Linked DNA regions of Homo sapiens: region 1 is linked to region 2. Evidence: fine-mapped expression QTL. A gene starts in region 2. The other region holds a variant in brackets. All regions are shown on one strand. Distances are between the middles of the regions. Region 1 overlaps PSAP (prosaposin). Region 2 holds the start of PSAP (prosaposin).

Evidence for each region. PIP is the estimated chance that this variant, and not a neighbour inherited with it, causes the effect.
Region 1: its variant is the best candidate, but not a certain one, in a credible set for the expression of PSAP in whole blood (TOPMed, PIP 0.85).

What each region holds. Positions count from the first base shown.
Region 1 is chr10:71,820,925-71,825,924 of GRCh38, forward strand. PSAP (prosaposin) reads right to left here. Exons shown (of 14, transcript NM_002778.4): 7 at 4,913-4,969; 8 at 952-1,083. Among named protein-coding and RNA genes, the nearest start is that of PSAP, 28 kb to the right of the region's middle. The variant G/T (reference allele first, on the strand shown) is at 2,100.
Region 2 is chr10:71,848,164-71,853,628 of GRCh38, forward strand. PSAP (prosaposin) reads right to left here and starts at 3,088. Exons shown (of 14, transcript NM_002778.4): 1 at 3,019-3,088. The coding sequence starts at 3,058. RefSeq lists enhancers at 1,347-1,846, 2,238-2,768, 2,769-3,299.

The DNA.
Region 1 (5,000 bases), 27 kb before region 2:
CCTGCAATGTGGCTGGTGTAGCCAAGGGGCTGAATTTTTAATTTTGCTCCATGGTATTTCATTAAAATTTAAGTAGTCACATGTGGTTGGAGTGCGAGCTATAACTCTTCACTTTCTCTGGCCGTCACTTTGGTCAGCAGGCTGGAGCTGAGGAGCACCCGGTGGAGAGGAAGGCAAGAAGCAGTGCTTCCTGGATTCCAGCTGACACTTCGGCCTGGCCCCTGGGTCACACACTCTGCACATGCAGAGAGGAGACAGCAGAGAGAGACCAACAGCTGGCAGTCAAGTGCCGTGGGATGTTCTAGAACAAGAAGCGTGTACATGTGCCACGTGTTAAGGCATCACACAGCCCAGGCCTTGAAGAACTAGAATGTAAGCCCCACGGGCACAATGACATCATCTGTTCACCACAGCCCCTAACATGCTGCCTGACCCATAATAAATGCCAAATACAAATTTATTATGGGATGAAGTAGTCTAATCTTCACCAAGTGAGGTGTTTTAGTTAAATAAAATAGACACCCACATGTACTTAGTATACAGGCTGCAGGCCCAGTGAGGCTTCCGTACACTCTGAGGGGTGTGCTGGGAACATCCAGTCTGTCAGGGCCACAGGATGGGGAAGGACCCAGACAGTGCATGTGAGAAGGTGAGGCTGAAGCCAGGCACTGCAAAGTCACCTTTGAATGGCATGCTGAAAATACACAGGCTAATGATCCCACGAACATTAGGGTTTACAACCAAGGAAATAAAATGTTTTCAAAAGAACTCAGGGTCGGGGGCTGCATTAGTATAGGGGATAGGATAAACCAGTGATCACAAACTCAAAGACCTTTAGGAGCCAGGCAGGGAACCGAAAGAAACAAGTGACTCGTAAGATGTGATGTGACACAGCAGGGAGTAGTGTGGCATTGCACAGCCCTGACCAGGACACAAAGTGACACCAGGTACCTTAATGGGCTCCACCAGTTCCAGGGCAGGGATGACATTCTTGGAGGCCACTTTGGCGGGGACCAGAGTCTGCATGGGCATCTCTTTCACCTCATCACAGAACCCAACCAGCGCACAGATCTCCTTGGGTTGCTGAAGAGAGCACAGAACAACCAGTCAGCAGCAAGCCTACGCCCACTGCTCCTCAGTCCCAATCCAGCCAGAGGACAGGGAGCTGGACAGCACCCTGGGCCCAGGTCAAGGCTACCTCCCTCTCCCCCTCCCACAACGGGGCAGATTCCAGTTTCCATGTTAAAGGGCTCGTGTCTGAAGCAGTGCATATGTGCCAGTTACATCTCGGGGAGGAGACCACACAAAGCTCCTAAGGAACATCAAACAGAGTCTCCATCCAGGGCCACCACGAGGGAGACTCCCCAGCACCTTCCACATCTCCAAGGACACCTGGTCTGTTCTAGAATGTGTCTTTTCAGGTCACTCTAGGTAGGAACTAAGCTATGCTTTTTTCTAGAGGGGGAACTACCATGCCCATAAACTAACAGAAAGCCAAATGTGTTAGAAATAAAACCACACCAGATTTTTCAGCGGCAGGACCATTTAAAATGATGCATTAAGGGGAAATGCTGGCTTTTTAAAAAACCACATTCTATGTTCAAGCTGCACACAGTGCACATGAAAACCCAACCCGCCAAATGGATGAATCATTTTAAGCCACAAGGTCTCCAGATTGATCCCCTTTCACCATTTAGACACCAAACACAGAGCACTAGATAGTCTAGACATCCTGACCATGACACTCTGATGGCCAAGAGTGAGACAAGTGTATAGACTCTGTATATTGTGGAAATAAATGCAACCAGCAACTAGCTCTGAGCCTGAGTGCATTTGCCTTCCAGCACCAAACCCTAAAGCAGCAGGAACAAAAGTGCTAAAAACAGGACCTGTTAAGGGAAAAGAGCTAGACCATGACTATGGCTCATCTTGTTTTAATATCAAGAAGGTTCGAGAATTAATAAGACCGGGGGAGTCTGAAAAGTATATCCCAAATACCCTGTCTCTGCCACACCTTAAGAATGAAAAATAAATAAATAAATAAATAAATAATAAGAACGCAGCTGAAGATACAGCAAGCTTTTTAGAAAAAAAAAAAA[G/T]ACGCCAATATTCAGGAGGTATAGGGCTGCTTCTGCCTCGATCAGCTTTGTTCCAACTCCTTGAGGAGGCCTAGGTAAAAATTCAGGTATTTCAACCAAAGTCCTCTCCCATTAGACTTCAAAATACCTTCAAAAAAAGCTCCAATGCTAATCCTAGCAGATGGATGCCAACGCTCAGAGGTGGCAGTGTTCAGGACGGCCCCGAAGGACACTGGCTCAGAGCAAGTATGGACTGGGCATTTGGTTCTTGTAGCATGCCATCTGATGTGGCTCTAGATCCCAAAGGACCCTGTTACCCAGAGGGGCAGAAGCCACAATCAAGAGATTGTTTCCAATTCTCTGGATCCAACAGCCAGGAACAGTCTGCTGGCTGTCTGCAAATGTTTGCTCATGCAGCAGAAGCATTTCTGTGTTTATGAAAAACAGCACTAAAGACATGCAATGCCTACTTGCGTTGTGACAGACACAAGGTGCCCTGGGGAAGCCAGACCTACACTGGACTTCCTAACTGGCCTACGTTGAAGGAGGCTGAGGCACCTCCTGGGCCACCCATGGTTCCCCATTGTCACACTGGTGGCCTGCATGTACGTATGCTGTATGTGGACTGTGACCAGAGCACAAGGCTCTGCTGGCTTCATTTTACTGGACCCCGAAGGGGAGATGAGACCCCCAAAACCTCAAGGGCTGAATTACAGGGGAGAGATGCAGAAGCCCTCCCCAGCCTATTAACAGAGAGGGAGCCTGCCTCTCGTAACCATTCCTTGTATCTGTCAGAGCTAATCATGCCATACCCAAAAAAAAAAAAAGCAAAGTAACTAGAGGAAGCAGCAGACCACTACTGCAAGCAGATTCCCCGACACATACCTGATCCTGCTGTTGAACAAAAAAACAGGAAATCGGAGGTGAAAATAAGAGAAAGGAAAGGACACAACAGTTAAGAAAAATTAAAACAACAATCAAGCAGTTAACCAGGTGTAAGGATGTCCCAAGAGGTTCAGGGGAAATGCTCTTGCAATCAGATCTTAGCAACCTACCTTGTTCCTGCTATCTTGCGGACAAGGGGGCCCTGAAAGCTTTCCTGGCCCTGCAGGGATAGACCATTTGGGGGCTGTCCTGCTCTGTGTGCACCATCTCCAGGTCTTACACACTAAATCACACTCAAAACACTGTGTAGCAAGAGCCCCAGAAAATGCTTGATGAAGGGTCTCCATACTCAGGAGCCCACACTGGCCCCGGGCCCACAAGGCTTTCCCACAGGTTAGTGACCAGCAGCACCACAGAACAAGACACAGGGCTGCCCAAGTAAGGGGGGTAAGGGATCCCTGAGGGGTAAGGGATCCTAGGGCAATCTACTGCAGGTGGCCAAATGGCAGCCTGGAAGGCCAATTTAACAATGTATCCAAAGCCTCATGCTTCCATTCAGCAGTTCCAGCTTTAGTTCTCTATAATAAGGGGAAAGGCAGGGATATGCATATATGTATGCATTTGGCTATAAGGATATTCATCTTCCCAAAGGCAAACCTGAAAACAACCTAGATACATCCGGCCACCGGGGACCAATTATGTAAATTCTCTTCTATGTACACAGGTGATTATTCTGCAAGCATTTAGTCATTTGTACAAGAATATTCAATGGCCAACATATTTTTAGGCAAAAAATGCAAACTACAAAGTACAAGGTAGTATATATGAACCCGTTGATATATTCTGAAACTCCAAATGATTTTTGTGTGGGAAGTATTGTCCATATTTTCAACACATTTCTACACAGTATAACTTTTATAATGAGAAAAATATTTTAAGTTAGCTATGAGGAAGTACTTCACGAGATTAAATCCCGTCAATGCTTATCTTTACCTACTTCAGGTGCATGTCTCTGTAAGCTGCCTTTTAACTGTTTTTAGAACATGGTAGGGTGTGAGTAATAATCCCAAATAAACTACTCCTCCTCAGCTTGCTTGAGTGGTTACAGCAGGTCAGAGAGTCAATCTTTCAGGCTCCTTGGCCATAAGATCTGGCTGCAACTACTCAACTGTGCTGCTGTAGCACAAAACAGGCGTCGCTGTGTTCCAAAAAAATACCCTTTAAGTACAAAACATGATGGGCCAGTTTGCTGACCCCTGGATCAGAGAACAAACTCAAACGCTGGTATGTCAATCTCAAGTAGTCAGAAAGCATGACAGACAGGGAAAAGGTGCCCCCCACCCACTCAGCCCTGCCAATCAGATCTAAGGAGGCAGTGCCCGTTCCCAACGTGAGCAGGCCGCCCTGCTCTGCGTGGACTAGCGAGCTCATTTCCTGAATGGGTATTCTTGATTCTAATGAAGGAATGCCCCCTGCCACCTGAATGCATCCAAAGCCAGCTCAGGAGTTACCAGCTCAAGCAGCAGCTTCAGCGGACGCTGCTGCCATGCACGGGACAAACTCCGGGAGGCAGTATTCCCCCGACTCAGGTGGCAACACAGCCATTCTCAGGCCTGGCTTAGTTAGAGAGCACTTGACTTCTACAGATCCCAGGGTTAAAGCCAGACCTAGAAACCTGATGGCTGGCCTGAACGGGCAGAGGCAAACAAATTGCCAGGAAGCCACCAGGGCAGTCCTGGGATCAAGATGCTTCAGCCTGCCTCTCCCGTAACAGGGGAGGTACTGAGATTGCAAGTGGAGAGTCTCCTAGCCAGAGGGGTCGATTTAGCCCAATTCAGCACTCTAAGGTAAAAAAGGGAAACTAAACCATATAATTTTCAAAATTCCTAGAAATGACGAAACCTGAAAAACAAAGAAAAATGCTAACAAGGGGCCTCCGTGCCACCTACCATGTGCATCATCATCTGGATAGCAATTTCAGAATACTGGCTGATATAGTTCTTGCACTGAGGAGAGAGAAACAGATTGCTAAACAAA
Region 2 (5,465 bases):
ACAATGTTTCCTTCGGGGCAAGTGGGACAGGGCAGTGAATGGGTGAACAGGGGCCTCTGGATGCTACTGCACTGCTCCCCAACCTCGGGGGCTGCTCACTTTGTGGTAATTCATCAAGTTGTCTACTTAATCGTCCACGTATGTAACTTACACTAAGTTTTTAAAAGTTAAGAGGTCCATGTGGACAGAGGGATATGGAAAAAGCGAGCACTGTGGAGTCTTGGGTTCTGGTCCTGGCATCCCCAGTAAATGGTCTATGATTTGGGAGAGTCACCTCTGGGCACCTCCAGGTCTTCATTCCTTACAAAGGGGTCAGATTACATGCTCTCCAATTCTCTCATGGTGCCATGGCTTTGCTTTCGCTTTTAGGTGGGGAAAAAGGAGGGGCAGCTGGATGGGCAGAAAAGTAACTCAAAAGCAAGTGTCTCTACCACCAGGACATCACTGAAACACAAAATACAAAGCCCATCCCGATTCAGGGTGGCATTCTGTACTACGACAGTGTCACGAAGAAAGTTCTAAGTGCCTCTCGGGCAGCAGACAATGGCTGCAGTCACCAGGCACTTTCACTAACAAAACTCATTATCATGTCTAGAAATTTTAGGAGTAACATTTTCACAATATCACAAAGGGGCCAGAGCTGTGAAGGCCAGGGAGCATTCAAACACTGTTATCAGCACTGACTTTGGCCTAATCCTAAAGGTAGGACAGCAAAGTTAAACCAAGGCCATTACAATACCTCCCATTTACCCGAGTGTTCACGGAAGAGGGTCCCTTGGTTAACTAAATATTGTGGTTAACCATAAGCCCATATATACCAGAGGTGGATTTTATATTTCCCGAGACACGATTGAGTCCCTTTTGGGTGATGTGAATGAATCAGAACTCTTAAGGGTCTTGTGAGGAGTGACTCAACGTCAACAAGAACAATGGATAATGTAAAAAGAAAGAAAAAAAATTGCCCTGAATCAGTATAAAAAATTTAGAGACCAGCATTAGTTTATTATACAGACCATGGAATAACTGCAGTATAAGCTTGAGTATAAAATCAAAATGATTTTTTTATAAGCAGATCATCTTTCATTGTGTACAAGTAAAACAAATTTAAGAGCTTCGTATAGGGTCAAGATACATTCTTGAGAGCTGCTGAAAGCTAACTCATTTCTTCGGTTTTGCATCAACCCTGTCATCCACTTTGTTACTTTTTATTAAAATTTGGGTAGCTAGGTTAAAAATGGCAGCCAGCCCTTAAACTACATATAGTTACTAAAAAACAGACATTGTGGTGGGGGCTGGGTGCGGTGTCTCACGCCTGTAATCCCAGAACTTTGGGAGGCTGAGGCGGGAGAATGGCTTGAACCCGGAAGGCGGAGGTTGCAGTTAGCCGAGACTACGCCATTGCACCACTCCGGCCTGGGCAACAACAGCGAAACTCCGTCTCAAAAAACAAACAAACAAACAAAACAAACAAACAAAAAAAAAACGGCCAATAGCGTGCAAGACTTTCTTTTCTCTTTTTCTTTTTTTCACAGGTGGGGTCTTGCTATGTTGCCCAGGCTGGTCTCCAACTCCTAGGCTCAAGCGATCCTCCCACCTCGGTGTCCCAATGTGCTGGGATTACAGGCATAAGCCACCGCACCCAGATGCAAGACATTTCAAAGCAAGTGAAATGAGGACCCCATGGCAAAATAACTGGACCAGAAAACCCTATATCGCCTTCAATACCTATGAGAATTAAGCTCCGATTTTTTTTAGCTTGCCCAAATTCCTATCTAAGGGGTGTAGGAATCATACCCTACAAACCATAAACTCTCATCAGATGGGTTTTATTTGACCCCATATATCGTGACTTACTTTCCAATCTGACTCTGGCATAACATTTTATAAGACAAGGAAAAAAAAATCAAAATATCTAACCCCAAAATATATTTCCTTGCCATACCTTGAAATTGCCCTGCAAAGTCTCTTGTGGGAAAAATCCACATTCTATAGAGAATCCCCTTTCCCCTATGTTTTCCTTCCTTCCTCTCCAGATCCAGGAGATAATCAACTAAGAGCCAGTCACCCTTTCATTTCCATAGAAATATTTTACAACGTGCTCGCTCTCTTAGTCGGCTACCTGAGAGCTTCCTCTGCACAATAAAACTTGGTCTCCACAATCCTTTATCTTAACTTGAATACTTTCTTTCTATTGATTCTAGGTTTTCAGATAAACTCAACCAATTATCAACTAGAAAATGTTTAAATTTACCTATGGCCTGGAAGCCCCCCGCCGCTTTGAGTTGTTTCGCCCTTCTGAACCAAACCAACGTATTTCTTAAATGTATTTGATTGATGTCTCGTGCCTCCCGAAAATATGTAAAACCCAGCTGTATCCCAACCACCTTAGGCACATGTTCTCAGGACCTCCTGAGGGCTGTGTCACGGGCCATGGTCACTCATATTTGCCTCAGAATAAATCTCAAAATATTTTTACAGAGTTTGACTCGTTTTGTCAACACCTAGAATCCAGAGTAAATACATATGCAAACGTCAATATAGATGATACACATGTGCTTCCTGCAGCTTCGCTACCCTTACAAACAGGCAACTGAAGCCAACGGCCAAAGTGTCCTGCGGGACGGGGCTCCAGCCCACCTCGATCACGTGCGCCCAGCACAGGCACAACACAGCTGCCCAAGGGGTCACCCTACAAGACTCACCCACCCCCACAGTGGGAAGCGCAGCCTGAGGGAAGGCCTCGGGGCCCCAGCCGCGCAGGAACCCACTCGAGCCCCGAAGGAGATGCTGCCCAGGGCCTGGGCCGTCCTCCCGGGGGCATTTTCGCAGCCCGCCCCCCGCAGCCCCCAGCCGCCCAGAGAAAGCCAGAGAAAGCCAGCGAACGCGCCTGCGCAGTGCGCGCGCCCCCTTGCCAACTAGGGCAGGGGGAGCAGAGGGGCCAGGCCCGGCACAGCCCATTCTGGGGCAGATGGACGCTGCGAGGCACCTCCTCCCCAGGATGAGGGTCCCAGGGCTTACCCGCGCCCAGGAGGCTGGCCAGGAGGAAGAGGGCGTACATAGCGCCGTCTGACTCCGCAGTCTGCAATGCGGAGCGTCAGCTGATCCCCCGCAGATATAAATCTGCCCTGCCCCAAAGCCGTCCAGAGCGCAGGCGCTAACCCCGCCCCATCCGGGCCTGCCCGAGCTCAACAGCGCCCTGACTCAGCGCCTCTGAGGGCGCCTGCGCGAAGGGGAGGCCAATAGGAGGGGGCAATGGGAGGGGCGAAAGGAAGGGCTATGGGGAGGAGTGAGGAAGAACTTGGAGAAAGGGAAGGGAAAGGTCATAAAAGAAAAGCCCTACTAATTGAATAGGTCAGAGATTATATATGTAAAATACCTTTTAAATCTCCACATTGTTGGCCGGCCGCGGTGGCTGACGCCTGTAATCCCAACACTTGGGAGGCCGAGGCGGGCGGAGGGTTCAAGACTAGCCTGGGCAACGTGGTGAAACCCCATCTCTACAAAAAAAAAAATACAAAAAAATTAGCCCATTGTAGTAGCGGGTTTCACATAGAATAGCTTGGGGTTTCACATAGAATAAGTAGTCGTGTAACAGGGTACAGGGCTCAGTCCTGGCCAGGGGCACGTGGGGGCAGGTGGTGGCACCTGGTCAAAGGCAAGTCTGGGCTGGGCATGCTGGCTCACTCCTGTAATCCTAACACTTTGGGAGGCCGAGGCGGGCGGATCATGAGGTCAGGAGTTCAAGACCAGCCTGGCCAATATGGTGAAACCCTGTCTCTACTAAAAATACAAAAATTAGTCAGGCGTGGTGGCGCTCGCCTGTGGTTCCAGCTATTTCAGGAGGCAGAGGCAGGAAAATTGCTTAAACCCGGGAGGTGGAGGTTGCCGTGAGTCAAGATCGCACTACTGCACTGCAGCCTGGACCACAGAGCGAGAGAGATTCCCATCACCAAAAAAAAAAAAACAAAAAACTTTTAAGCCTCACATTGTGGTACCGTTAAAGATGTAATACCATTCCTCACCCATCATAAGAGATCATAAGAGTCACAACCAACACTCCTGTAACGAGACAGCTTAAGAGAAAAGCATAACAAATTTATGTAATCAACGTTTTATGTGACATGGAAGCCTTCAGAAATTAAGACCCAAAGACCCTCTGCCTGTGGCTGCCCCTGCCAGGACCTGAACAGAGAATGATGATGACCCTCTCCAGAAGGATAAGAACCTGCCAACCGCAAGGCAGGGAAAGGAGGGGAATCTTAGCCCCTTAGGGCAGGCACTTAGAGGTCATTTACCTGTAGGGACATTGAGCCTAGGAGAGGGCAAGACGTTTATCCAAGGTCACACAACAGGTAGAGATAGAACCTGGCCCGAAGCCAGGTTTCCTGACCCAGGAAGGGCAAACCTACAGTTCCTCCAACTTCCTCCAATCTGCAATCCGCTCTGGAGAACAACCCCAGGGACTAAGGCCTCAGAACCTTCAGTTCTGCTCCCCTGCAATCTCCCTAAGTGCCCCCAGCCCCCACCACAGCTCTGACTTCCTCTGGGGAGCCAGATGGGGAAGTGTGCCCCATGCACCACAGTGGGCCATGTGAGGCAGCTGAGTGAGTTGGGACAAGATGTGGTCTCAACTGGACGCCTCACAGGTCGGCCTCAGTGGCCAGATGGAGACTTCGTGGCTGCTCCACCTTTGGGCTTCCCAAGGCCAGGCAGAAGCGTGGGGCAGACCACACAACAACTGGTTAAAAGCAAGGGAGCTAGCCGGGCGCGGTGGCTCACGCCTGTAATCCCAGCACTTTGGGAGGCCGAGGCAGGCAGATCACGAGGTCAGGAGATCGAGACCATCCTGGCTAACAGGGTGAAACCCCGTCTCTACTAAAAATACAAAAAATTAGCCGCACGATGTGGCGGGCGCCTGTAGTCCCAGCTACTCGGGAGGCTGAGGCAGGAGAATGGCGTGAACCCGGGAGGCGGAGCTTGCAGTGAGCCGAGATCGTGCCACTGCACTCCAGCCTGGGCAACAACAGCGAAACTCCGTCTCAAAAAAAAAACAAACAAAAAAAGCAAGGGAGCTGGGGCTCTAGGACAAATCCCCCATCCTTCAGCTCCTTGCAGATGGAGGAGCAAAGCATCCCAGTGCTCCATGCAGAGGTTACAGGACCCCAAGCCAAAAGGACGCTCAGAGACCTCAGATCATCCCCTCTCATCTTATAGAGCTACTGACATCTCAGGGCTGGTTAACAACAGAGCCTGAACCAGGACTTGTTTTTTTTGTTTTGTTTTGTTTTGTTTTGTTTTGTTTTTTGTTTGGAGATGGAGGCTCACTCTATCACCCAGGCTGGAGTGCAATGGTGCGATCTCAGCTCACTGCCACTTCTACCTCCCAGGTTCAAGCAATTCTCCTGCCTCAGCCTCCAGAGTAGCTGGGATAACAGGTGCACGCCACCACACCTGGCTAGTTTTCT